4 linked regions of the Homo sapiens genome follow. The protein of the gene in region 1 purifies or fractionates together with the protein of each later gene. This does not show direct contact. Each region holds a gene or a part of one and is shown in the gene's direction. Other genes may lie near its edges.

Region 1 (7,032 bases):
TCAACAGGAAGCGGGGTGACTAAGACGCCGGCCCTGGTGAAGGTGGCCTGCAGGAGGAGTCCATCGGCCGCATGGGGGCCCTCCCTGGGCCCCGTGAGACCACAGACCAGCAAGGTCAGGGATTCCCAGGTTGGGATCTGGGGTTGTTTCACCATGGGCCAACCTGCCGGGCCCTTGGAGGAGATGGGGGATTGATGGGGCCATCTTGTGGGGGTCACCCTGCTTATCTGTGGTCACTGTGGGAGCCTCGGTGATGGGTAGCGTCATCACCAGCATTCACCAGGGTCCCCTGATCACTGGCCTGTATCCCATGCTGTCCCGGGAGATGATGGAGTCCAGCAGGGACTTCTCCTCAAACCTGGATTTGAGCCCCAAGTTCCAAAAGGAAGAAGCATGCCCGACCCTGGAGCCTGGCACATTGGCATCAGATTTTAACCCCGAGGGGAGTGGGGAGGGCCCCAGTTTGCTCAAGCTGTCCCACATGCAGCCACCCCCGAGTCTGTGGCAGCCTCTCATTGCCAACTGTGTGGGCCCAAGCATGAACCAGCCCTCTGTGATCTATGGCACAGCCCCGAGCTGCCACAGGCCACATGTGGTCAGCAGGGTGGCCTCTTATCTATCGACCAGGGAGGGCAGGGTGGCCTCGGGTAGGCTTCCTTGCAGCGTGGGTGGTGGGAGGGCTGCCCATGTTCACCAGCCTTACCTCACCTGTGGGGGCCTGCCTTGGTGTCAGTCCTCAGGGGTACATCGTGGTCTCTACCAACCCTTAGTGGCCAGAGGCCAGCAGCAGGCATCCAGGGCTTCCAGGGAGAGCCTGGGGAGGAGGTATCAGCCCCCAAATCGCAAACAGGCCCCCCCGGGTACTAGGGAGGTGATAGACAAGGGGGCCCCAAGTCCCTTGCAGGTCACCATGGTGACCAAAACTCAGGCATCCAAGACTCATGGTCTGTTTCAAGCTTCCCCCGGCAGTGCATTGGCTCAAGTTCGTCCCAAGACATCTGTCTGTGGACAGGGGAGGAATCGAACACAGGGTTCTGTGTCTGCCCTGCTCTGCCCCCAGAAGCTAGCAACAGACCACCAGCCATCCATCCTCGGTGAGCCAGTAGGTGGTTTGCCACAGGATCGAGACGGTGACCTGGCCAGGAGCTTCTCCCAGGGCTTTGTGACCTACAGTCAGGAGAACAATTCCGAAAGCTCTCTGCAAAGTTCTAGTTCCCTCAGCCTTTCCACTATGTCTGTGGCCAGCCTGCCTGCCGTCAACAAGATAGATGAGTCACGGGAAAGCAGTTTAGAAGGGGACCTTGCGGTGAAGTCTGTTTTTCCTCCGGAGTCCATGGGGACACTCCAGAGGTTTAAGGATACGCAAGAGACTGAAACCGGCTATAGGTACATGACCCTACACTTCCCCTACCGGCCCACTCCAGCCTCGGAGAAAGTGCCCAGTTTCCAACACAGCTCAGTGTCTAACTGCTTGACCTTGCGTGTTCACTGGGGCTCAGAGGCTGAGATCCACAAGTTCTCCTTAGGCAAGAGCTCTGTGAATCTGATTGAGGTGTCCCAGGCAACCGTCAAGACAGAGCTGAGGAGGACTCTGTCTTTAGGTACTGTGGTCTCCACTGCATATAAGCCACCATCTGTGGCCAAGAGCTTGGCCCCAATTGTGTCCCAGGCTACACTGGCCAGTAGGGTAGCCCCAAACCTAGGCCAGGCATCAGGGTTCAGTAGGCTGGCCCCAAGCCTATCCCAGCATATAGCATCCAGTAAGGTATCCCCAAGGCTAACCTGCCCATCTATGGGTAATTGGGTGACCCCAAGGCTACCACACTCCTCTGTGCCTAATAGAGTGACACCAAGACCAGCACAGCCATCTGTGGTGACTAGGAGGTCCCCAAGCCGAGGACACCCATCAAGGACCTTTAGAGTGGCCTCAGACCAAGGTCACCAATCAATGGCTAACTGGGGGTCCCAAAACCTAGCCCAGCCATCTATGGACAGTGGGGAGCCCTCAAGCCTAGCCCAGCCATCTCAAGCCCCTGGGGTAACCTCAAATCTGGCCCAGCCATCTCAAGCCTTTGGGGTGTCTCCAAGTCCAGACTACCCATCTCAGTCTGTTGGGGAGTACCCAATGCTGGCTCAGCCATTTCAGCCCACTGAGGTGTCCCCAAGTCCAACCTACCCATCTCAGGCCATTAGGGAGTACCCAACCCTGGCACAGCCATTTCAGCCCACTGAGGTATCTCCAAGCCCAGCCCACCCATATCAGCTCACTGAGGTGTCCCCAAGTGCAGCCTACTCATATCAGCCCACTGAGGTGTCCCCAAACCCAGGCTACCTATCTATGGCCATTGAGATGTCCCCAAGCCCAGAATACCCATCTGTGGCCACTGAGGTGTCCCCAAGCCCAACCTACCCATATCAGCCCACTGAGATATCCCCAAGCTCAGGCTACCTATCTGTGGCCACTGAGGTGTCCCCAAGCCCAGGCTACCCATCTCAGCTCACTGAGGTGTCCCCAAGCTCAGGCTACCTATCTGTGGCCACTGAAGTGTCCCCAAGCCCAGACTACTCATCTCAGCCTACTGAGATGTCCCCAAGCTCAGGCTACCTATCTATGGCCACTGAGGTGTCCCCAAGCCCAGGCTACCCATTTCAGCCCACTGAGGTGTCCCCAAGCCCAGACTATCCATGTGTGGCCACTGGGGAGTCCCCTAGCCTTGCCCAGCCATCTCAGCCCACTGAGGTGTCCCCAAGCTCAGCCTACCCATCTGTGGTCACTGGGGAGTCTCCAAGCCTGGCCCAGTCATATCAGCGCACTGAGGTGTTCCCAAGCCCAGCCTACCCATTTATGGCCACTGAGGTGTCCCCAAGCCCAGGCGACCCATCTGTGGTCACTGGGGAGTCCCCAAGCCCAGCCTACCCATCTCAGCCCACTGAGATGTCCCCAAGCCCAGCCTACCCATCTCAGCCCACTGGGGAGTCTCCAAGCCTGACCCAGCCATCTCTGACCATCAGAGTGTCCCCAAGCCTAGCCATGTCATCTCAGACTATTGGAGTGTCCCCAAGCCTAGCCATGCCATCTCAGACCATTGGAGTGTCCCCAAGCCTAGCCATGCCATTTCACACCATTGGAGTGTCCCCAACCCTAGCTCACCCATCTATGGCCATTCGGGAGTCTCCAAGCCTGGCCCAGCCTCCTCAGTCCACTGGGGAATCCCCAAGCTTGACCTGGCCATCTCAGGCCACTGGGGTGTCCCCAAGTGTAGCCCACCAATCTGTGGCCAGTAGGGTTTCCTCAAGCCTAGCCCAGCCATCTCAAGCCAGTGGGATGTCCCCTAGACAAGATTACCCACCAGTGGCCTCCAGGGTGTCCCCAAACCAAGCTCACGCATCTATAACCAGCAGGATGTCCCCTAGCAGAGCTCATGCATCTATGACCTGTATGGTGTCCCCAAGCCAGGTTCATCGATCTATGCCCAGTGAGGTGTCCCCAAGCCTTGCCCAGCTATCTCAGGCCACCACTGCAGTGCCCTTAAGACCAGCTCATCAACCTATGGCCTGTGGTGTATCCCCAAGCCTAGCCCAGCCGTCTCAAGCCACAGGGATGTCTTCAAGGCTAGCCCACCAACCTATGACCTGTGTGGTGTCCTTAAGCCCAGCCCAGCCATCTCAAGCCATTGGTGTGTCCCCAAGCCTAGCCCACCCATCAGGACCCCATGGGTTGTCTCCAAGTCTAGCTCACCCATATGTGGCCAGTGGGGCGGGCTCCAGCCTAGCCCACCCATCTCAGACCACTGCAGTATCCCCAAGGCAAGCCCAACCATCTGTGGCCTCCAGTCCAGGCAAGACAAATTCATCCTGTACCCTAGCCTCCAGCCTAGCCGAGCCAGCTATAGCCCCCAGCCTATTCCCACCATCTGTGGCCCACACGGAAGCCCTAAGCCTGGCTCAGTCACCCCCGGACACTAGGTTGGCCCCAAGCCGATCCCAGCCATCTGTGGTCAGTGGTACATGTCATGGCCTCAATGAGCCATGCTGGGGCTCTAGGCTGGATTCAAATCTGCAGTGTTCAAGGGTGGACTCAGTAGCCCCGTGTCTGTGTCACCCATCAGCGTTTGTTTCAGTTAGCCTGGGTGGACCATATCCCTCTGTGGCTGGAAATATGGACCAGGGTCTGAACCAGCCATCCCTGGGTACTGGGGTGAACCTATGTGAAGAACCTCTGATGGTTAGTGAGATGGTATCCAGCCCCCCGGACTTCAAGTTCAACGACGTGTCCCTTGGGTTCCATCATCCACCCAGGGTTGGTGGGAGGCATGTGTGTCCACCCTCTGTGGTTAGTGTTTCAACACCAAATCTCTCTCATGCTGATGAGGAGGCCTGTTGTGTAGGCCAGTGAATCACGCCTCTGTTCAGGGGTGTGGCTGTAAGCCATCCCCAGGAGCCTTTGGCTGATGCTATGTTCCCCAGTGGGTCTCAGGGGACCACATCTCCTGGCCTAGCTGGGAATCTCCCCTGGAGAACCATAGCAACTGGCATGGGCCAAAGTCAATGTCAGGTGGCCAATGGCATGGCTTCCCTTGCATCCCAGGTCTTAGAGGCAGGTGGCCCTTTGACACATCCCTCTGGAACCACAGGGATGGCCCCCAGCCCCTCTCTGGCTTCAGTGCCCAACAGACTGGCCGTGACTCAGTCTAATCTTTCCCTGAACAGCATGGACCCCAGCAGCTCCCAGATCAGTGTGGTTATTCCAAAAAACATAGACTGCTGGCACCCTTCTGAGGCATCCATGGTCCCACCCAGTTACCAGCAGAGAGATGTGATTCCGCAGGACTCTCTGAAGAGCAGGGCTGGTCGTGGTGCGGCAGGAGGTTTTGTAGCCAGTAGAATGAGCACGGGCGCAGTCCCAGGCACTCTGCCTGGTGGCATAACCTCCAGCCTTCCCCCGGGCTCCACCATCCGAGGCATGGGTCACAGCCTTCCCGCAGGCTCTGTGTCCAGTTGGGTGGCTCCCAGTCTGATGGCAGACAGAAAGAAGCCAAGTCTATCTGTAAGACCCTCCGCTAGCTTAGCTGCTCCAAACTTGCTCCCAGGTTCAGTAGTGAGTCGGGTGAGCCCAGTTGTCCCCCTGGTTCTGTGCCAATGATGGGGGCCTCTAGTGTGGCTCAGAGCTGCTCCAAGGGGCCCATGGTGATTGACATCACTGCCCCTCCTTACCTCAAAGCCTGGCTGGGGAGAGGTCTTTAGCCCCCTTGCAGATGCCCCACACCACCAGTCTGGCTCCAGGTCACTCCTCAGCCCCGGCAGCTAGTGGCACAGTGAGGAGTCTACACCGAGTGCCCACGGTTCTATCAAGAGCCTTACAATTGAGCCAAGATGCTAGGATAATGCCATCTGGGGTCACAGGGGACCAAGCCAAGCTAGGAGAATTGGATGAGGCTGTGTTCCAAGTGTCAGGATCAAGTGGATCCAATGACCTATTCAGCAAAGCCAGGGTCACTGGTGCAACCCAGTGGATGTACTCCAGTCCTCTGGGAGCTGATGGGGGCCATGATCATAGGTCCCTGTCTGAGAAAGGGTCTCTTCCCCAAGGGAGGTGGCTCCCAGCCATGCTAGTGGCATGGTCCCTGTCCCTTTCCAGGCCCCGGGTTTAGCCACTAAGTCCCCCTCAGTTTATCAACAGGGGTCTGTCACTCACGTCATACCCCCAAATCACTCTCAGGGTACAGTGGCTTCTAATGTAGTCTCAGGATCACCCCAGCTGGCCCGTGGCAGTACTGAGGCTTTCAGATTGCTTTCAGTGTCTGTGGGCAGGATGGGGAATCCTAGTCTTCTTCAGAGGTCAGGGACCACCAGCATGGTCTCACATGTGCCACTATATCCGTCCTCGGCTAGAAGGGCATTGTCCAGTCCCTTCCAGACAGAAGCTGTCCCCAATCCACTCCAGAAAACAGTGTCTGGAAACATGGCTCCGAGCAGCCGCTGGGACGCCATGGGCCCTAAAAATTCCTACAGATCCGTGCATGGTAGGATTGTTCCAGAACTGCTAGAAAGTTCTGTGGCCAGGGTTAGGCCCTTACAGTATGTGCAAAGACAACCATCCCAGGCCTCAGCCCGAAGTGGTGCAAACCCCACCCACAGGCCCTCTGCAGAGGTAAGGCCCGTCATCCGCACTGGGGAGATGACACACTCCTCGGTCATTCCTCCGCTGGCCCCGGGAGTTCGGAGGGTGTCTCTAGGCTATGAGTCTTCCCCAAGTGGTTCCCTGCCACCCCTTTTTAACCAGGAGTCACCGTGGAGACGGCAGGACTCCTATAGCCCCCAGAATCCTGCCGTTAGTCACAAGGCATCCCTGAACTCCACTATACTCCAGGGCCCCGCGGACGCTGGTGTGGTTGGTGGCCAATCGTGGAACCGCGCATGGGAGCCAGCCAGGGGTGCTGCGTCCTGGGACACCTGGCGCAACAAGGCGGTGGTGCCTCCCAGGCGGTCCGGGGAGCCAATGGTGTCCATGCAGGCTGCAGAGGAGATCCGCATCCTCGCAGTGATCACTATCCAGGCGGGCGTCCGTGGCTACCTGGCGCGTCGCAGGATCCGGCTGTGGCACCGGGGGGCCATGGTCATCCAAGCTACTTGGCGCGGCTACCGTGTGCGGCGGAACCTGGCACACCTCTGCAGAGCCACCACGACCATCCAGTCTGCCTGGCGCGGCTACAGCACCCGCCGGGACCAAGCCCGGCACTGGCAGATGCTCCACCCCGTCACGTGGGTGGAGCTGGGCAGCCGGGCCGGGGTCATGTCTGACCGAAGCTGGTTCCAGGATGGCAGAGCCAGGACAGTATCTGACCATCGCTGCTTCCAGTCCTGCCAGGCACACGCTTGCAGCGTCTGCCACTCCCTGAGCTCCAGGATCGGGAGCCCGCCCAGCGTGGTGATGCTAGTGGGCTCCAGCCCTCGCACCTGTCATACCTGTGGACGCACACAGCCCACCCGTGTGGTGCAGGGCATGGGCCAGGGCACTGAGGGCCCCGGGGC
Region 2 (7,608 bases), on another chromosome or scaffold:
ATATATATATATATATATGTATGTATATATATACATATATATATATTTTTTTTTTTTTTTAAAGAAAGAAAAAGAGACTGGGTGTGGTGCCTGTAATCCCAGCACTTTGGGAGGCTGAGTGGGGAGGATCACTTGAAGCCAGGAGTTTGAGTATTCAGTAAGCTATGATCATGCCACTGTGGTCTACCAGTCTACGCTGGGCAGCAGAGCAAGATCCCATCTCTCTCTCTCAATCTCTGTGTGTGTGTGTATACATATATATATATATACACACACATACAGTAATACATATATATAGTAATTTCAGATTACCATAGATTACTATATATAGATCTATACAGGGATATATAGATATATATAGATCTATAGATATATCTCCCTGTCTATATATAGAGATAGATATATATAGATAGATATACAGAGATAGATCTCTCTATATCTATTTATATCTATCTATATGTATATCTATAGAGAGAGAAATTTTAAAAAGAAAAAATAGGCTGGGTGCAGTGGCTCACGCCTGTAATCCTAGCACTTTGGGAGGCCGAGGCAGGCGGATTGCCTGAGCTCAGGAGTTCGAGACCAGCCTGGGTAACATGGAAAAACCCTGTCTCTACTAAAAATACAAAAATTTAGCCAGGCGTGGTTGTGCGTGCCTGTAATCCCAGCTACTCGGGAGGCTGAGGCATGAAAATCCCTTGAACCTGGGAGGCAGAGGTTACAATGAACCAAGATCGTGCCACTCTACTCCAGGCTGGGTGACAGAGGGAGACTCTGTCTCAAAAAAAAAAAAAGAAAGAAAGAAAGAAAAAGAAAAAGAAAATAACAAGTGTTGGTGAGGATGTGGAGAAATGGGAACTCTCATGCATTGTTGGTGAGAATGTAAAATGGTGCAGCCACAGTGTAAAACATTTTGGAATTACTCAAGACATCGAATACAATTACCATATGTCCCAACAATACCACTCTTAGGTATATACCCAAAATAATTGGAAAAAAAATTAATCAAATACTTGTACACCAATGTTTCTAGCAGTACTACGCACAATAGTGAAAAGTTGAGAGCCAAGCGCGGTGACTCATGCCTGTAATCACTTTGAGAGGTCAAGGCAGGCAGATCACTTGAGGTCAAGAGGTCGAGAACACCCTGGCCAACATGGTGAGATCCCATTTCTATTAAAAATACAAAAATTAGGCGGGGCACGGTGGCTCAAACCTGTAATCCCAGCACTGTGGGAGGCTGAGGCAGGCGGATCACCAGAGGTCAGGAGTTCGAGGCCAGCCTGTCCAACATGGCAAAACCCTGTCTCTACTAAAAATACAAAAATCAGCCAGGCATGGTGATTCATGCCTGTAATCCCAGCTACTCAGGAGGCTGAGACAGGAGAATCACTTGAACCCAGGAGGCAGAGGTTGCAGTGAGCTGAGATCATGCCACTGCACTCCAACCTGGGTGACAGAGCAAGACTCTGTCTCAAAAAAAAAAAAAAATTAGCCAGGTTTGGTGGCACATGCCTGTAATCCCAGCTCCTGGGGAAGCTGAGGCAGGAGAATCATCTGAACGATTCCTCCGATAAGGGGGAGGTTGCAGTGAGCCAAGATTGCGCCTGCACTCCAGCCTGCAGCACAGAGCAAGACTCTGACTCAAAAAAAAAAAAAAAAGGTGGAAACCACCCATGTGTCCATAAACAGATGAATGCTTGAACAAAATGTGGTATATCCATACAATGGAACCTTAGTCAGCCATAAAAAGGAATGACATTCAGGTATATGCTATAACATGAAGGAACCTTGATGACAAGGTTTATTTTACCTTAGTAAAATAAGCCAGGCACAAAAGGATAAATATTGTATGATTCCACTTATATATGGTACCTAGAGTAGTCAAATTCATAGAGATAGAAAGTAGAATGGTGGTTGCCAGAACTGGGAGAAGGGGGCATGGGGAATAATTATTTATGGGATGCTGCAGAGTTTCTGTTTGTGATTAATGAAGTTCTGAAACTGTAGAGCGGTCATGGTTACACAACATTATGAATGTGCTTAATGCCACTTAACCAAACACTTAAAAACGACAAATCTTATGTATATTTTACTATAAAAATACATAAGGGGATTCATAGCTTTTCAAAATGCTTCTAGGGAGTATAGGAGAGGGGGAAAAAGCCAGTAGTCCTCAATGCAATGAGCCCTACACCAGCAACTTTAAGGCTGAGGCAGAGAAATGTAACTGTTAGAGCCACACCACCTGGTCAGCTTTTTTTAAGTGTGTGTGCGTGTGTGTGTGTTTGTGTGTGTGTGTGTGTGTGTGCATGCACATTTTGTTTTTCCTTTTTGTGGAGCACTATATTCCCCAGGCAAATCTCAAACTCCTGGGCTCAATCTATCCTCCTGCCTTTGCTTCCCTAAATGCTGGGATTACAGGTGTGAGTCCAGCAGCTTTTTTTCTTTTCTTTCTTCCTTTTTTTTTTTTTTTTTTTTTGAAACAGGGTCTTGCTCTGTTGCCCAGGCTGGAGTGTGATGGAGTGATTATGGCTCACTGCATCCTCCAACTCTCCAGCTCAGGCGATCCTCCCATCTCAGCCTCCCAAGTGCAGGTACCTGGGACTACAGGCACACACCACCACACCCAACTAATTGTTAATTTTTTTGTAGAGACGAAGTCTCCTTATGTTGCCCTGGCTGGGCAACTCCTGGGCTCAAGCAATCCTCCTGCCTCGGCCTCCCAAAGTGCTGGGATTACAGGCACAAGCCACTGCGCCCAGCCTTGGTGAGCTTTCTGAACTCAAAGCTGAGTAGAGACCTGAAGTAACTATCAGGACAATATGGGTCAATAAAACTCATCCTCCTACTTCCATTCGTGTCTGAGTTAAAACAGTATCTTCCACTTAAGTGCTCATTTCTCAAGTTTTGATTTTAAATATAAAAACAGCCTAAAGGTGCTTACTGTGTTTACTTCTTTTATATTTCAACTATCTGATTTTTTAGCAGTGTCTAGGGACAAAAACTAGCATTTCTCTGAGACCATCACATCCCCAATCTGACTGCTATGTGAATGGTTTGTTGGGTGCCTGGAATGGCTTGTTTATGTAAGCTCTCACCTGTAATCCCACACTTTGGGAGGCCGAGGCGGAGGATCACTTCAGGCCAAGAGTTCAGTTCAAGACCAGCCTGAGCAACATAAGGAGATCCAACCCCCTACCCCCATCCCCACCTCCAACCCCAGCTCTACAAAAAAATTAAAAAATTAGCTAGGGCCAGGCGCCGTGGCTCACGCCTGTAATCCCAGAATTTTGGGAGGCCGAGGCGGGCGGATCACGAGGTCAAGAGATCGAGACCATCCTGGACAACATGGTGAAATTCCCGTCTCTACTAAAAATACAAAAATTAGCGGGGCGTGGTGGCGTGGGCCTGTAGTCCTAGCTACTCGGGAGGCTGAGGCGGGAGAATCGCTTGAACCCGGGAGGCGGAGGTTGCAGTGAGCCTTTGCGCCACCGCACTCTAGCCTGGCGACAGTGAGACTCCATCTCACCAAAAAAAAAAAAAAAAAAAAAATTAGCTGGGAGTGGTGGCACGCGCCTGTAGCCCCAACTACTCGGGAGGCTGAGGCGGGAGGATCGCTCGAGACCAGGAGTTTGAGACCAGCCTGGGCAACATAAGGAGACCCAACCCCCCCGCCCTTCAGCTTTACAAAAAAATTAAAAAATTAGCCAGGAGTGGTGGCGCCGCGTGCCTGCAGCCCCAGCTACTCGGGAGGCTGAGGCGGGAGGGTCGCTTGAACCCGGGAGTTCAAGGCTGCAACGAGCTATGATAGCGCCACTGCACTCCAGCCTGGGCGACAGAGCAAGACCCTGTTTTACACAGACAAACAAAAACGAACAAAAAGGTCACAGCGAACTTTGTTCAAAAGTCACATTAACACTTAAATGCCTTAACCCGGACTGAAAGCCCGGGCTTAGGACACAGGGCAGCTCTCCCTCAAAAAGGGGTCTCCCAGCAACACCCAATCCACAAGTTGCTCCTCGCCCTCCCCAAACCGGTACAAGATATATCAGTCTCTGGGCAGCTCCAACGGATTCTGAAGCTACGGGAGGGACTAAGGAACAAATATGAAATGTCGGACAAATGAAATGTGCGCAACAGCTAGGTTTTGGAGGATAAGCCAGTTGCTGAGCGACTTCTCAAATCTTCCAAGTGCCTCCAACACCTCTCCCACCCGGTAGGGCTGCGCTCTTTAGCTCTTTCAACCTTCCACGACCGGCCTCTCCGCTGCCCTATCAGCAAATCATCGGGCCGGTGCCTGCCAGTCCGGGCCAATCCCGAACACATTTACTTTGAGCGGGAAAAGCTCAGAAGCGGCGAGAGAGCGTGGTCCGCTAACCGCCCCTTCCTCTCCTTGTCTCTGGGGGGTAACGGAGCCTGGAGTGGTCGCCCATTGGATGGGCATCGGACCAATGGCGGGCTGCGAAACGGGAGGGGCGGGCCTCACAGCGGGGCGGGGCGCGCCTGTGCCGTGTCGCGTGCCGAGCCGCGAGCCCCAGGCAGGCCAGGTAACGGCCTCTGCCCCCGCCCCTCCCTCCCCGCTCGGACTTCCCTTACCCGCACACTGGCTCCAGGCAGCGCCCGGGCGGCGGAGGCGGCTGCGGAGACGGCGGGGTGCGGGCTGAGGGAGCCGGGCCTGGACGCCCCCCCCATCACCCCCGTACCCCAGGAGCTGTGCCTAGTCCAGGAGAGGCTGGGGGGCGCCCCATGGAGGTGAGACGCGGAGACACCTGCCCGCGCCCTCACCCCTCAGGCCTGAGGGAGGAAGGACTTGAGGTAATGGATGAGGAAGGGCAGGGTCCAGGGGGCGGCCAGACTTGCAAGAGGCGACGAGGAGGAGAGGCTGAGGAGGGGGCGCGTCCCTAGACGGGGCGGCAGAGGCGGGTCGTCGGTGGGGAGGCCGAACGGGGCGGGCGGGCGGGGGGCGCGGCGCGGGCTGACTGGACGGGCCGGACGGAGCGCGGGTCGCCGCGATTCCCGGGAGGCAGCCGTCGCGCTGAGGCGGTGGCCGGGGAGGGGCGCCCCTCGGGGTCAGCACTCAGGGGGCCCGAGGGGAGAGTGAGAATCCCGAGGCTGGAAGCGCGGGCCCCCACATTCGTGTCCTCTGAGAGGGTTCGGAATTGAGCCGAACAGCCGAGGTAGAACAGGTGTCGGGCCGTTTCAGCTCCGGCGTCACCCTCGTGACCACTTTCTGATATTTCCTATTCCCGTGTGCTGCAGCCCAAAGTCGCGTTCCCCGGAGGTGCGAATCGCTGTTGGAACCTCGGCGCCGACGCCGGCAGCAGGTTAACCGACGTCTTCGGCAGCGTGATGTTGACTGGCTCCGCTTCCTTCTACGATTGCTACACATCGCAGGTCCTTTAGTAAACTCTGCCTCTGTTAGACGATTTATTCTCAAATGGATTTACTCGAGCCACCGATTCATAGGTGTTTAATGGCTCCACAGTTAAGGAAGAGAAAACCAGGGAAAACTTTTTTTTTTTTTTTTTTTTTTTGAGACAGAGTCTTGCTCTGTCTCCTAGGCTGGAGTGCAGTGGCGCCATCTCGGCTCACTGCAACCTCCGCCAGCCGGGCTCAGGCGATTCTTGTGCCTCAGCTTCCTGAGGCACGCGCCACCACGCCCGGCTGTTTTTTTTGTTTGTTTTGTTTTTGTTTTTTGTTTTTGAGATGGAGTTTTGCTCTTGTTGCCCAGGCTGGAGTGCAGTGGTGCGATCTCGGCTCACCTCAACCTCTGCCTCCGGGGCTCAAGTTATTCTCCTGCCTCAGCCTCCGGAGTAGCTGGGATTACAGGCATGCGCCACCACGCCTGGCTAATTTTGTATTTTTAGTAGAGACAGGGTTTCTCCATGTTGGTCAGGCTGGTCTCGAACTCCCAACCTCGGGTGATCCGCGCACCTCGGCCTCCCAAAGTGCTGGGATTACAGGCATGAGCCACCGCGTCCAGCCGTTTTGTTTTGTTTTTTGAGACGGAGTCTCCTTCTGTTGCCCAGGCTGGAGTGCAGTGGTGCGATCTCGGATCACTGCAACCTCTGTCTCCCTGGTTCAAGCAGTTCTTCCGTCTCAGCCTCCCCAGTAGCTGGGATTACAGGCACCTGCCATCATGCCCGGCTAATTTTTGTATTGTTTTTAGAGACCGGGTTTCACCATGTTCCCCAGGCTGGTCTCGAACTTCTGGGCTCCAGCCATCCTCCCGCCTCGGCCTCCCAAAGTGCTAGGATTTCAGGCCACAGCGCCCAGCCCAGGAACAATTTTTTTTTTTTTTTTTTGAGACGGAGTCTTGCTCTGTCGCCCAGGCTGGAGTGCAGTGACGCAATCTCCGCTCACTGCAAGCTCCACCTCCCAGGTTCACGCCATTCTCCTGCCTCAGCCTCCCGAGTAGCTGGGACTACAGGCACCCGCCACCACGCCCGGCTAATTTTTTTGTATTTTTAGTAGATACGGGGTTTCACTGTGTTAGCCAGTATGGTCTCGATCTCCTGACCTCGTGATCCGCTCGCCTCAGCCTCCCAAAGTGCTGGGATTACAGGCGTGAGCCACCGCGCCCGGCTACAATCTTTTAAATACAGTGTTTGCAGAATACATACTTTGCTTTGAAAATAAGTTAAGGGCCGGGCGCCATGGCTCGTGCCTGTAATCCCAGCACTCTGGGGGGCTGAGGCGGGTGGATCACCTGAGTTCGGGAGTTCAAGACCAGCCTGGCCAACATGGCGAAACCCCATCTCTACTAAAAATACAAAAATCAGCCGGGTGTGGGGGCAGGCACCTGTAATCCCAGCTACTTGGGAGACTGAGGCAGGAGAATCTTAAACCAGGGAGGTGGAGGTTGCAGTGAGCCAAGATCATGCCACTGCACTCCAGCCTGGGTGACAGAGTGAGACTCCCTCTCAAAAAAAAAAAAAAAAGAAAAAAGAAAACAAATTGAAGAATAAGATTTTTCATTGATTCGTTTCCATCTTGTCCTTAGCATAACATAATTCCAGAAATGTAAGAAAATCCATTATTTAGTAAGATTAAAATATGTTTTTTTTCGTTCAGGCATTTATTGCAAGTTGGTACAAACATATTTTTGATAATTTAAAGGTGAAAATTTCACTTTACTCCTTTATTTTCTGGTTTTAACAATGTCTTAAATTATATGCTACCACTTACCTCACCAAGACATTTAGATTTATTAATCAAAGGAAATAAAGCTTGGGTAATGTAAGTAATTTTCATTTGAAATTATTTAACCAGGACATCAATGTTGATATTGTTGTACTTTGAATTATAACAATATCTAGAAATAAATTATTTTATTTAATCCACACTAAGAATCTTGTATATTATTATGCCACTGTACAGATTGAGAAACTGAGCCTCAGAGAGCTTGATTTGTGCCCTAAATGACAAAGCTCAAGTGGAACCCAGACCATAGTTCCACTGCTCTCTGCAGTGTTTACATCCGGACTAAAATTTATTTGGATTTAATTTCAGTTCACTGTTTTAAGTATGTTAAGGATATAAGTGATACATTTTAAAGTTAATCCAGTTAATATGCCCACTCAAATATTTGCATATTTCCTGGCC
Region 3 (7,032 bases), on another chromosome or scaffold:
AATCGGGCCGTTCAGGAATGGAGTGTGCAGCAGGTTTCTCACTGGTTAATGAGCCTAAATCTGGAGCAGTATGTATCTGAATTCAGTGCCCAAAACATCACTGGAGAACAGCTCCTGCAGTTGGATGGAAATAAACTTAAGGTAAAGAATTATATGTCTGTCTTAGGTTACCAGGTATAATTTGTATTACTCATATCACCTAAAATGTTTTCATTAGGTAAGAGCATTCTGCATATCTGAGAGGTAATTCTCATCAATATTCAGCAGAAAGGATGTTGAATTCTTTCTGAGTAGTAAATGAAGTCTCAGAAAGTCCATCAGGGGTTCCAAATCAAATGGTAGGCTGCTGATTAGGAGAGTGAGGGACCCACTCCATTGCTTCCACCTGGCAACACATGGTCCATATATTAACTCTCCTTACATCTGATGTAGTATGAGTTTTAATAATGGCCACTGTGGACTTTTTCATCACATTAGAATTAAGACCCAGATCCACGAGTCTTCTTTTCCTTGTTCATTTCTCCTTCACCTCCACTCTTCCTTACACACCACTCCCAAACTGGGATGATGTTCTCCCCAGAAGTTTTTTCCCCAAATATGTACACACATCTTCCCTCCCCTCCATGGCACTTTCATTTCCACTTGTCCAGTCCATCTCTCTTAGAGACCAAGGTGGCATCCATCCCTTTGGGAAAGGGAAAAAGGTGCTTACAGCCAACTCCATGTACCCCCAAGCCCCACCCCCGCCTCAGCCCCCTGCTGGGCTGACGGGCAGACGAGTATCTCTTGACAATCTTGAAAAGGTTAGAGATCAATCAATAGCTTGTGAATATGAAGGCCTCATTGACAAGGCTGTCCCTGTTGGGGAGATAGATAGATGCATCCTGCTGTTGATTCTGAAGGTCACGAAACATTTAAAGTACATAAGCAACTCCCCTTATTCTGAATTCTAAGTTCATCGAGCAACCTCCTCATTATAATCAACTTCCTTTATAGGTCTGCCTACAGGGAAAGAATGGCTAGTCATGCTGACACGAGCATTCTGGCCCCAAAGACATTTTTGGTTCTCATTGTAATGAAAACATTGGCAGAAAGGAAGCCATTTCAATTCTTCTTGCCCTTCTTGGAGCCCTCTGTGACAGCAGGTGCTCACTCCTATGCTTTGAAAATATTGATGAGTTTAGCAATACCTTTACCCGTAAATGCCTACAGCCCAAAGGTTGGAGAAGTAGAATTGTGCCCTTTTTCCATTCATTCACCCATTAATTACTCATTTGGAAAGCATTTAATTAATGAGCTTTAGGGTATACTTTGCAAGGGACTTCAAAGAACAAAAGAAAAAATAAAGGGTAGCCCCCAGTGTGTTGGTTTTTAGCAAATGTAACTAGTTCTTCCTCTGTTCTTACCTCTTCAATGTTTGAATTAGTTTACGAACTTGGATATATGGTATGTTAACACCATCAGAGGGCTCATTGGTTTTCAAATTCAGTTTGTGTGTGTGTTTCTTTCTTAGGCTCTTGGAATGACAGCATCCCAGGACCGAGCAGTGGTCAAAAAGAAACTCAAGGAAATGAAGATGTCTCTAGAGAAGGCTCGGAAGGCCCAAGAGAAAATGGAAAAACAAAGAGAAAAGCTAAGGAGAAAGGAGCAAGAGCAAATGCAGAGGAAGTCCAAAAAGACAGAAAAGATGACGTCAACTACAGCCGAGGGTGCTGGTGAGCAGTAACACATACCCTCTTACAGATGATGGAGATGCTCCAAGAGAAGTCCCCACCTCTTCCTGCCCTGCTCTCCTCCAGAGGATGAAAAAGAAACTAAATGATAAGGGTAATGCGGCTCTAGGCCGGCTGAGGAACTGTGTGTTGAATAACTGCATTTTCTGCAATAGAATGCACTCTTAATTTTAACTACTAAAATAATCCCAAGCCACCTTTGGTTCATTAACAAACCAGAGATTTCATTTAAGTAGCTGTGTTTTGCTCTTCTCTAACTTACCAACATCTTGTGTTGTGTTGGGTGTGTTTTGTCACTTGGAGAACTAGTGTGACCCCACCCAAGAGCATGACACACCCTGGTGTTGTTAATGGAGCGCCGTGAATTTTCAGTGTGGGATCCTGAAATGGCAATTGCACATGTCTGCATGGCAGAGAGCACCCTGCCATGAGATCTGAGACCAGTACTTAACTTCTAGGACTGCAACACCTACTCCAATGTGTGGGAAAGATTTGCTCTTAATTCTCAGTCTGGACAGTGAGACCACCCCGCTGTGGAAACATGGGTGCTCTGCTCTGTAGTTACCTACTAAGGGAAAAGGCAAGCAAGTCATTCTGCTTGCTAGGCATCAAAAAGAAAGAAAATAAATTATAGCTATTTGTTAACCACTGAAAAAAGCAAAAGCCTTAAGAATGTGGATGTGGGTATTACCTTGGGGTTCTGAGGGTAATATTTATCCTCTAGATACGGCTGAACAAGAAAGAAAAAAATCAGACATTAATGCAGCCATGGGATATTGGGATCTGTTGACCTTGCTACTGCTGTGTGTTCAGCATTTCAGCAACACTGGCAAACACAACACAGTTCCTCTTCCCCCTACCTAACCCAAGAAATTGAACAGGAAATTGATTTTTAAGGAAACCACCATTTTCAGGTTTCCTCTCCTGGGGAACATTCTGGCTGGTCTTCAGCCTGCCTATGTCACAATCAGGAACTCATCACATATTTTCTACTCAAGATTTCCCAGGTGGGCTCAGTTAGTATTTTAACAAATGTACTTTTAAGAAAAATAGAAATACCAGTTAGAGGAAACTGTCAGTTAACATTTTAGAGAGATTTTGAATGGTTTTTCCGAACCATTCCTTTCCATACTTCAAAGATTCTCAATTTTACAGAAAAAGTTTGTTTAAGGCAGTGCATAGGTATACTTTAGTAGTGGAGGAACTTATACTAATTTTAAGCCAGCATTAAGGATTTCCATGTTTCACCAAACTAAGTCAAGTGCAGGAGACTGGGGCAGAAGAAGGAGAAAATAAACTCGTTTTGAGAAATTTCATGTGATGAGGGTTTTTTGTTTTTTATGCTCATGTATCTGGTTCTCTTTGCTGCGTTGACTCTAAAAATGAGGTTATCCACTTTCCAAAGGACAAGTTTCAGAATAAGACTTGAGGCCACATGAATTCTTGGACAGTATTTTACTTCTTTTACTTTATGGGAATCTCTGCTCTGTTCCCAGCATCTCGTATCTTCCACTAGAAGTATTCCATATTTAGAGCCTCGGCAAGGCTTTTGAGTGTAACAGATTAAGGGAACTCCCTTGTAGCCCCATCTTGTATTTTAATAACAGTGTGATTTTTTTTTATCTGAAAATCTGAATTCAGAAATTATCTAAACTGGACATTTTTAATTCTGTTTTACCCCCAAGGCCTGTTTTCTTTTCATTGCCAGAGTATTGTCGGTTATGCGTCAGCTCTTTTGTCATTAGGTACAGACCCTTCATTCAATCCTCAGAAACGTTGACATGAAGTAACATTGTGTTTTACAGTTATCAAAGTCACCATTATGTTTTTCTGTCTGTCTTCATTAGGGGTATGATAATGAAACTGCCGTATTGGATACTCTATTAATGTCTTGAGATGTCTGGTGCTTTGTTATTTTTTCACATCATGAGAAATAAGAAGCCACTATTAATGAGTGATACAATTTGGCAAAACTTTTCAAATACTAAAACACTAAATTAGTAAAAATCTGGTAATATTAGTGCTTGCTATTGTAAATTTTTGCCATTTTTGCTTATCTTTGGGAAAAAAGTGACCTGGATCACACTGGAAGTTTCACTGTATTCAAGAGTAGAAATAGAAGGATGATTATCTTAAGTTATGTTTACACTTTGGTAATATTTGAAAATGGATGTATATACTGGAAATGTCTGTAAGTGTCTTGTTTTTGCACCTAATTTATGATCTATTATATTGCATTTTCTTAAATATCTTAGAAGTATTTTTCTTTATAACTTTGTATATTGAATGTTTAGATAAATGTCCAACTGACAATGTTATAAATCAAATTCTTATTCCTAAAATCATTTAGTATTATAAGTATTTTGATTTTTTAAGTTAAATTATAGTAATTTTAGGCCGAAGTGAGTTATTTTAACATTACCACTTAAAACGGATGAAATTGTAAAAGTCATTTGGTTTGATTGCCCCACAAAGCATAAGATGTAAACTGATTAAGGGTATGAAAGCAAAGTGAAAGACCTCAGATCTTGTGCACATTTTGTTTTCCTATTATTTCTTTTATTGACTGTAGTGCATGATACCTAATCAAGGCTCCAATGTCTTGCACAATTCCTACTTTAATGCTAGTGGTTTTCAGTGTCCTTACAATTTAACACAGAATTGTTATTTCATCAACCTTAAAAACTGCAGTTTTTATTATCAGAAAATGAACAAAAAGGGAATATCTGGTTGCTATGAACTGATTCCCTAAAGGAGAGCTCAGTATGATTCTAACAATAGCCAAAAGTGTTTTGGGGTATAGGTTATGCTTTGTTGGGAGGGAATGTGTGGTGAGGAGGCCAAGCTGCAGACAGAAAGCATTGTATGAGCTGTATCTGGGTCAGGGTTTCCCATTAAAGGATGTTAGTTTTATAACAGATTACTTTGTTTAAGACCATCTCCCTTCAAGTAACTCACAGTTTATGTAATACTAATCTCATTCTTTTTTTACCTGAATCAGGAATTTTCTGCAGAATGTTAAGTTAGGGAAGAAACCTCATTTCATCCATTCTAACACTCCTGATGAAGTCCCCCTTTAGTTTCATGACAATAAAGCTGTTCTGTGGCTATCATCCTTTAGCTGGGATTGACAATTGATTTCACACCCTCAACATCACAAGCTTTTTTTAACCCACAGCAGTTCATGATTGCAGTATGATAGGTACTAAAGCCAAACTCAGCTTTCAACTGGCACAAAATGGGACTGTCACCTTTTGCTCCATTGTTGTTGGAAACAAAGTGGCAAGAGGGAAAATGAGGAACCAGATTTACCTTTGCCACTATCTGTGACCCTGTAATCATCACTAGCCTGAAATCTTAAAATATCCCAGTCCCAAGCTACAAAAATGGTCACAGGTGGTTTGATCTAGCACCTCGGCCGTTAGAGTTTGTGCTGAAGACAAATTTGTCTGGGTTCATTGTGCACCAGAATTAGCATGTGCTTGAAAATTGCATTTTATAAAAGGGAAATGAAAATTTGCATTTATATAGATACTCTGATTCATGTTTAAGTGTTAAAGGTTATGCAGACTAAACTTCAAGAGGAGATCCAGTGTTTAACAATAGTGTTCTAGAGGATTCTAAAGGAAGCTGCCCCAGCAGCCCTGAGAGAACCATCTATACTTTGGATATGTTGTAGCCCCATCATTACACTGAGATATTTCCATTTGAGTAACTAAAGGTACTCCTGACAGAGCTGGAGATGAGGGGCATTTTGGTGGGCAGTGGTCACTAGGGTTCACGTCACCTACTTAATGCAAAGACCTTAGTGGTCTCAGAATGAAAAGGTAAAATGGAAGAGAAAAGCACAGTCCTTTCCTGTCTTTTCAAATTTACTTTTTATTAAGGATGTACCTGTGCACTATTCTAAAGCTAAGCATTTAAGGATAAAGTCCAGAAATAAAATGTCCATATTTTCTTTTCTTTTCTTTTTTTTTTTTTTTTTCTGTCATCTGTCACCCAGACTGGACTGCAGTGGTGCCATCATGTCTTACTGCAGCCTCAAACTCCTGGGCTCAAGTGGTCCTCCTGCTTCAGCTTCCCAAGTAGCTGGGACTACAGGCATGTGCCACCACCCCCAGCCAAAACATCCATATTTTCTATTAGAATGGTTTACATTATGATGGGGGATGGGGAGCTGGGGGAGGGCTGTACATTCCCAAAAGAAAGTAGTGTTATAGGAAATCCAAATGCGCTTCAGTGATTCACTCCTGAAAAGCAGCCTGGGTATGTTGGCAGATTTTGTTTGCATTTGTCTTGCGTATTTAAAGTCTCAGGAAATCTAGTCTTGGTCCAAAACACTGGAGAAAAAAATAACACCAGACAAAACACATTTGAGTAACTTGAAGTAGCAGCATAGAATAGGCCCAACTAAGAAGTTGGAGGGGCAAAGAGAAAGCCGACAGAATCAGCTTCTCCTGGAAAGTGAAAGCATCAAGTTCTATTTATGGTAGACAGAGGGTCCTTATTTGCTTGTCCGTGGTGTCTATGTGGGCCTATTGAGGGAATGGTAGTTACTTGAAGGTTCACATATGTAAGCGTGTGGACCCAGCACAGTCTGTGACCTGATTCCAGATCCTCAAGAGTGGAGAAGGAAAGAAATATGATGATTTCCTATGCTTGACCCTAACCCAACCCCAAAACTGCTAGGGATTCAACAGTGAGTAAGATGTATGCAATAAGAGAACAGATAACTTCTCAACAATGTGCATGCCGTTTGTGTAGATGTTCAGAACTACATATGTGTGAATATCACTCCCACCTTACACACGCACACACACTGCAATCACATGGCATTAAAAAATATATTGTGTATGGAACTTGGCGAGGTCAGTCAGGACCTGGAGCTGTAATCATAGCCTTATTGCCACTTCTTGCGTTGTGTATACATTGAATGGCTCATAGATTTTAAGAGATTTTTTTATTGTAAGTATTTCTACTAAATGCACTTATCCTTCTATATGTTTATATATTTTGGTAAAATTGATTTATCAGATACTTGGTATTTTAGTAAGAAAATTTCCTCAAATATTTGGCTAATGCTTTGATGTCAAGATTGCATATTGCTGAGTTGGAGCTCAGAAGAAATGTATGCAGCTAAAAATTGCACTGTGTGTTCTTGTGAATTTGCTCACAATTCTAAAATGACATAATTGGTGGCTGTGATGCTTACAGTCACTGCCTACTGGCTCTCTTATGATGAATGTTGCCATCATATGATCATTTATTTACTTTTTGTGCAAGCAATGGCATTTTGGTT
Region 4 (4,099 bases), on another chromosome or scaffold:
AAATGTATCAGACCCCCATGGAGGTGGCGGTCTACCAGCTGCACAATTTCTCCATCTCCTTCTTCTCTTCTCTGCTTGGAGGGGATGTGGTTTCCGTTAAGCTGGACAACAGGTAACCGCTGGCCCCAGCTCCGGCGCCTCCCGAGCCGGGGCGCCGGCCGGAGCTGGGCTAGGAGCCCGGTCTCTGAGCGAGCTGTGTGCCGCCGGTCCCTGTTCCCCGCGGTGCAGCATCCTGGGAAGGGGCGGGGGGGAGGGGACGCAGGAAGGGGGGGGTCACCGCCGCTCTGGGATCCGTCATCGAAGCGTCCCTGCGGCCGCTGCGCCGTGAAAACCAGCTGCTGCAGCCGCAGAGGCAGCCGGAGGCAGAGGGGCGGCGGGCAGGACCAGACAGGGCTGGGCAGGGGGCTGGCCGAGCGCCGTGCGCCGCTTGGGAGAAGGCCGGAAGCTTACCAGCCGAGAAGGAATTCCTAGCTAGCTTCAGAGCCGGGTAGGTTTGCCTGGGACCTTGTAGGCCGGCTGTGGGGGACTCCCCGGGTCGCACAGCCCCATTGTTTGCATATTGCCCGAGCAGGCCACGGTGGCCTGCGCGCCCCAGGACTCGCAAGCAGCTCCGATCGGTTGGAACTCGGGGCGGCGGCAGCAGCGCTGAGCCGGCCTGGATGAGGAGATGCAGCTTCCTGCAGGGGCCAAGGAAGGATCTGGGGACAAACTGTCCGGAACTCTGGGCCAGGGAGGCGAGAAGGAGAGAGAGAGGAAGAGCCGAGGCAGATGGAGGACTTTGGCCACAACTGCCATGTACTCAAGAGTAGAACCGAGTGGGTAATGGGTCGCTTTGCTTTTTGTCTTGGCAGTGCCTCCGGAGCCAGCGTGGTGGCCATAGACAACAAGATCGAACAGGCCATGGTGAGTGGCATCACTGCGTCATTCTCATCCCCTGACTTAGCTGCTGCTTATGTAACTCTGGGCAGGATTGAGGGAATGGGTGAAAAAGCCCTTAGCCAAAACCCTGAGGAAGCCGACAGCCTGCCTCCTATCCGCACTGGAGGTGGAGTCTGATTAGAGTGGCACCTTTTAGGGCATTTCCAGTCTTCCCTTCCTGGGCTCCCTCCTTTCTTCCTCCCTCCTCCATCTCAGGTCTTTGCCGCAGGCTCTGACTCTCTCCTGGGCCTGTTGTTGGGCAGGGAGCTCAGACTCTTGCATTTGTGTGCATCGTGCAGCTGGCAAGGGGCTGAGCTCATTGGATGCAACAGCACTGCAGTGCCTCTGCAGAGCCTGGACTGGGGTCAGGAGTTGGGTGGAAACAGGAAGCGAAGCACCCCACCCCTGTCCCTCTCCTTACCAGGTAGAGGTCATACTCCAAGGAGCAGCCACAATGGCTGCAGAGGGTTAGGGCTTCAGCGGTTGGGAGCCACTTAATTGTGCCCTGGAGCTTAAGGACACCTTCCCTGCCCCCAGTGCAGTCATCAAATTCAGAGAGGATGCGGCAGTTCTGTACCTTTCCCCAAGGCCAATGTCCTGTGTGCTAACTGGCCGGCTGCAGGACAGCTGCAATTCAATGTGCTGGGTCATATGGAGGGGAGGAGACTCTAAAATAGCCAATTTTATTCTCTTGGTTAAGATTTGTACAGCAGACAAACAGTATGGGATGCATTGCAGGTCTACCCTTCCCCCAGATCTGGATCGGCAGCAGTAGGGGCTTATGTAAAAAGGGGGACATAGCAAACCACTGGCAAACAGCAGAAGTGTCACCCCAAAGGCCCCTCAGCAGCCAGCTTTGAAAGTCATTAGAAACTTGCAGGGGAGAACCTATCTAGTTCAAAGCTGGGCTCTCAACTCCAGCATAAGCCAAATCATGTAGCTCTCCTGAATGAGGGTTTAAGTGCTTCAGAGAAAGGTGAACGAGGAATTGGACTTGCCAGACCAGTTCACTGAGGGAAGGCTGGAGGGCCCTGGCATTAAGGACAGCACAGGCACACCAATGACAGAGCAAAGGTGCTGCAGAGGGGCCACGATGGCTAAGGAATGGCTTTGTTATGATTCCCTCATTGGCAGGATCTGGTGAAGAATCATCTGATGTATGCTGTGAGAGAGGAGGTGGAGATCCTGAAGGAGCAGATCCGAGAGCTGGTGGAGAAGAACTCCCAGCTAGAGCGTGAGAACACCCTGTTGAAGACCCTGGCAAGCCCAGAGCAGCTGGAGAAGTTCCAGTCCTGTCTGAGCCCTGAAGAGCCAGCTCCCGAATCCCCACAAGTGCCCGAGGCCCCTGGTGGTTCTGCGGTGTAAGTGGCTCTGTCCTCAGGGTGGGCAGAGCCACTAAACTTGTTTTACCTAGTTCTTTCCAGTTTGTTTTTGGCTCCCCAAGCATCATCTCACGAGGAGAACTTTACACCTAGCACAGCTGGTGCCAAGAGATGTCCTAAGGACATGGCCACCTGGGTCCACTCCAGCGACAGACCCCTGACAAGAGCAGGTCTCTGGAGGCTGAGTTGCATGGGGCCTAGTAACACCAAGCCAGTGAGCCTCTAATGCTACTGCGCCCTGGGGGCTCCCAGGGCCTGGGCAACTTAGCTGCAACTGGCAAAGGAGAAGGGTAGTTTGAGGTGTGACACCAGTTTGCTCCAGAAAGTTTAAGGGGTCTGTTTCTCATCTCCATGGACATCTTCAACAGCTTCACCTGACAACGACTGTTCCTATGAAGAAGCCACTTGTGTTTTAAGCAGAGGCAACCTCTCTCTTCTCCTCTGTTTCGTGAAGGCAGGGGACACAGATGGGAGAGATTGAGCCAAGTCAGCCTTCTGTTGGTTAATATGGTATAATGCATGGCTTTGTGCACAGCCCAGTGTGGGATTACAGCTTTGGGATGACCGCTTACAAAGTTCTGTTTGGTTAGTATTGGCATAGTTTTTCTATATAGCCATAAATGCGTATATATACCCATAGGGCTAGATCTGTATCTTAGTGTAGCGATGTATACATATACACATCCACCTACATGTTGAAGGGCCTAACCAGCCTTGGGAGTATTGACTGGTCCCTTACCTCTTATGGCTAAGTCTTTGACTGTGTTCATTTACCAAGTTGACCCAGTTTGTCTTTTAGGTTAAGTAAGACTCGAGAGTAAAGGCAAGGAGGGGGGCCAGCCTCTGAATGCGGCCACGGATGCCTTGCTGCTGCAACCCTTTCCCCAGCTGTCCACTGAAACGTGAAGTCCTGTTTTGAATGCCAAACCCACCATTCACTGGTGCTGACTACATAGAATGGGGTTGAGAGAAGATCAGTTTGGGCTTCACAGTGTCATTTGAAAACGTTTTTTGTTTTGTTTTGTAATTATTGTGGAAAACTTTCAAGTGAACAGAAGGATGGTGTCCTACTGTGGATGAGGGATGAACAAGGGGATGGCTTTGATCCAATGGAGCCTGGGAGGTGTGCCCAGAAAGCTTGTCTGTAGCGGGTTTTGTGAGAGTGAACACTTTCCACTTTTTGACACCTTATCCTGATGTATGGTTCCAGGATTTGGATTTTGATTTTCCAAATGTAGCTTGAAATTTCAATAAACTTTGCTCTGTTTTTCTAAAAATAAACTTGGTGTCTGACTGAGTATAAATGGACTGGGTGGGAGAGGCCCCTCACCCAGTAGGGGCTGTTTTGCTGACCCCCTGAATATCCCTTGAGCACCCTGTCAGTGCCAGGCCTATGCTGCAGCCGTGATCTCGTGTCATCTGCACAATACTCATATGAAGGACATGCTGTTTGCCCTCACTGTCTGGATAAAGAAACTGAGACTCAGCGAGTTTAAGTGACTTGCCCAAAGTCACATGGCTATTACGGGAATTAGGACTCAAGCCCAGATCCTTCCTCCCTCTCCTGCTCCGCTTTCATATGAGAGCTTCGGAGTGAGTGGCAAGGTGACTCATAACACACAACTGTAGCTTGAGGGGGTGATTTGGGAGGAAAGATACCCCGAGGAAGGCCCAAAAGAAACAGGCAGGGTATACATAGGAGGGAGCGAGAAGAGCGGAACCAAATCAACAGGCGTGGGCCTCTTCTGTCTTCTGAAAACATCACTGGGCTCACTTAATGCATTCTCCTTAATACCAAT

Evidence for each region.
Region 2: the proteins of IQCN (region 1) and MEIOC purify together in Homo sapiens (affinity purification with mass spectrometry; 2 studies listed by BioGRID and IntAct, with this or other methods). This does not show direct contact.
Region 3: the proteins of IQCN (region 1) and PPP1R9A purify together in Homo sapiens (affinity purification with mass spectrometry; 2 studies listed by BioGRID and IntAct, with this or other methods). This does not show direct contact.
Region 4: the proteins of IQCN (region 1) and TSC22D3 purify together in Homo sapiens (affinity purification with mass spectrometry; 2 studies listed by BioGRID and IntAct, with this or other methods). This does not show direct contact.

Annotation. Positions count from the first base shown.
Region 1 is NC_000019.10:18,257,445-18,264,476, reverse strand, and holds part of IQCN (IQ domain-containing protein N), read left to right. Parts: coding exon 1-114; intron 115-6,370; coding exon 6,371-7,032. UniProt on the Homo sapiens protein: Essential for spermiogenesis and fertilization. May be required for manchette assembly in elongating spermatids.
Region 2 is NC_000017.11:44,651,865-44,659,472, forward strand, and holds the start of MEIOC (meiosis-specific coiled-coil domain-containing protein MEIOC), read left to right. Parts: upstream 1-4,603; 5' UTR 4,604-4,749; coding exon 4,750-4,818; intron 4,819-5,262; coding exon 5,263-5,397; intron 5,398-7,608. UniProt on the Homo sapiens protein: Is required for meiosis completion in both male and female germ cells. Confers stability to numerous meiotic mRNAs in gonads allowing proper initiation and progression into meiosis prophase I.
Region 3 is NC_000007.14:95,288,578-95,295,609, forward strand, and holds part of PPP1R9A (neurabin-1), read left to right. Parts: coding exon 1-141; intron 142-1,513; coding exon 1,514-1,726; 3' UTR 1,727-7,032. UniProt on the Homo sapiens protein: Binds to actin filaments (F-actin) and shows cross-linking activity. Binds along the sides of the F-actin. May be involved in neurite formation. Inhibits protein phosphatase 1-alpha activity.
Region 4 is NC_000023.11:107,712,703-107,716,801, reverse strand, and holds the end of TSC22D3 (TSC22 domain family protein 3), read left to right. Parts: coding exon of another isoform or gene 1-112; intron 113-293; exon of another isoform or gene 294-487; intron 488-851; coding exon 852-903; intron 904-2,052; coding exon 2,053-2,283; 3' UTR 2,284-3,581; downstream 3,582-4,099. UniProt on the Homo sapiens protein: Protects T-cells from IL2 deprivation-induced apoptosis through the inhibition of FOXO3A transcriptional activity that leads to the down-regulation of the pro-apoptotic factor BCL2L11.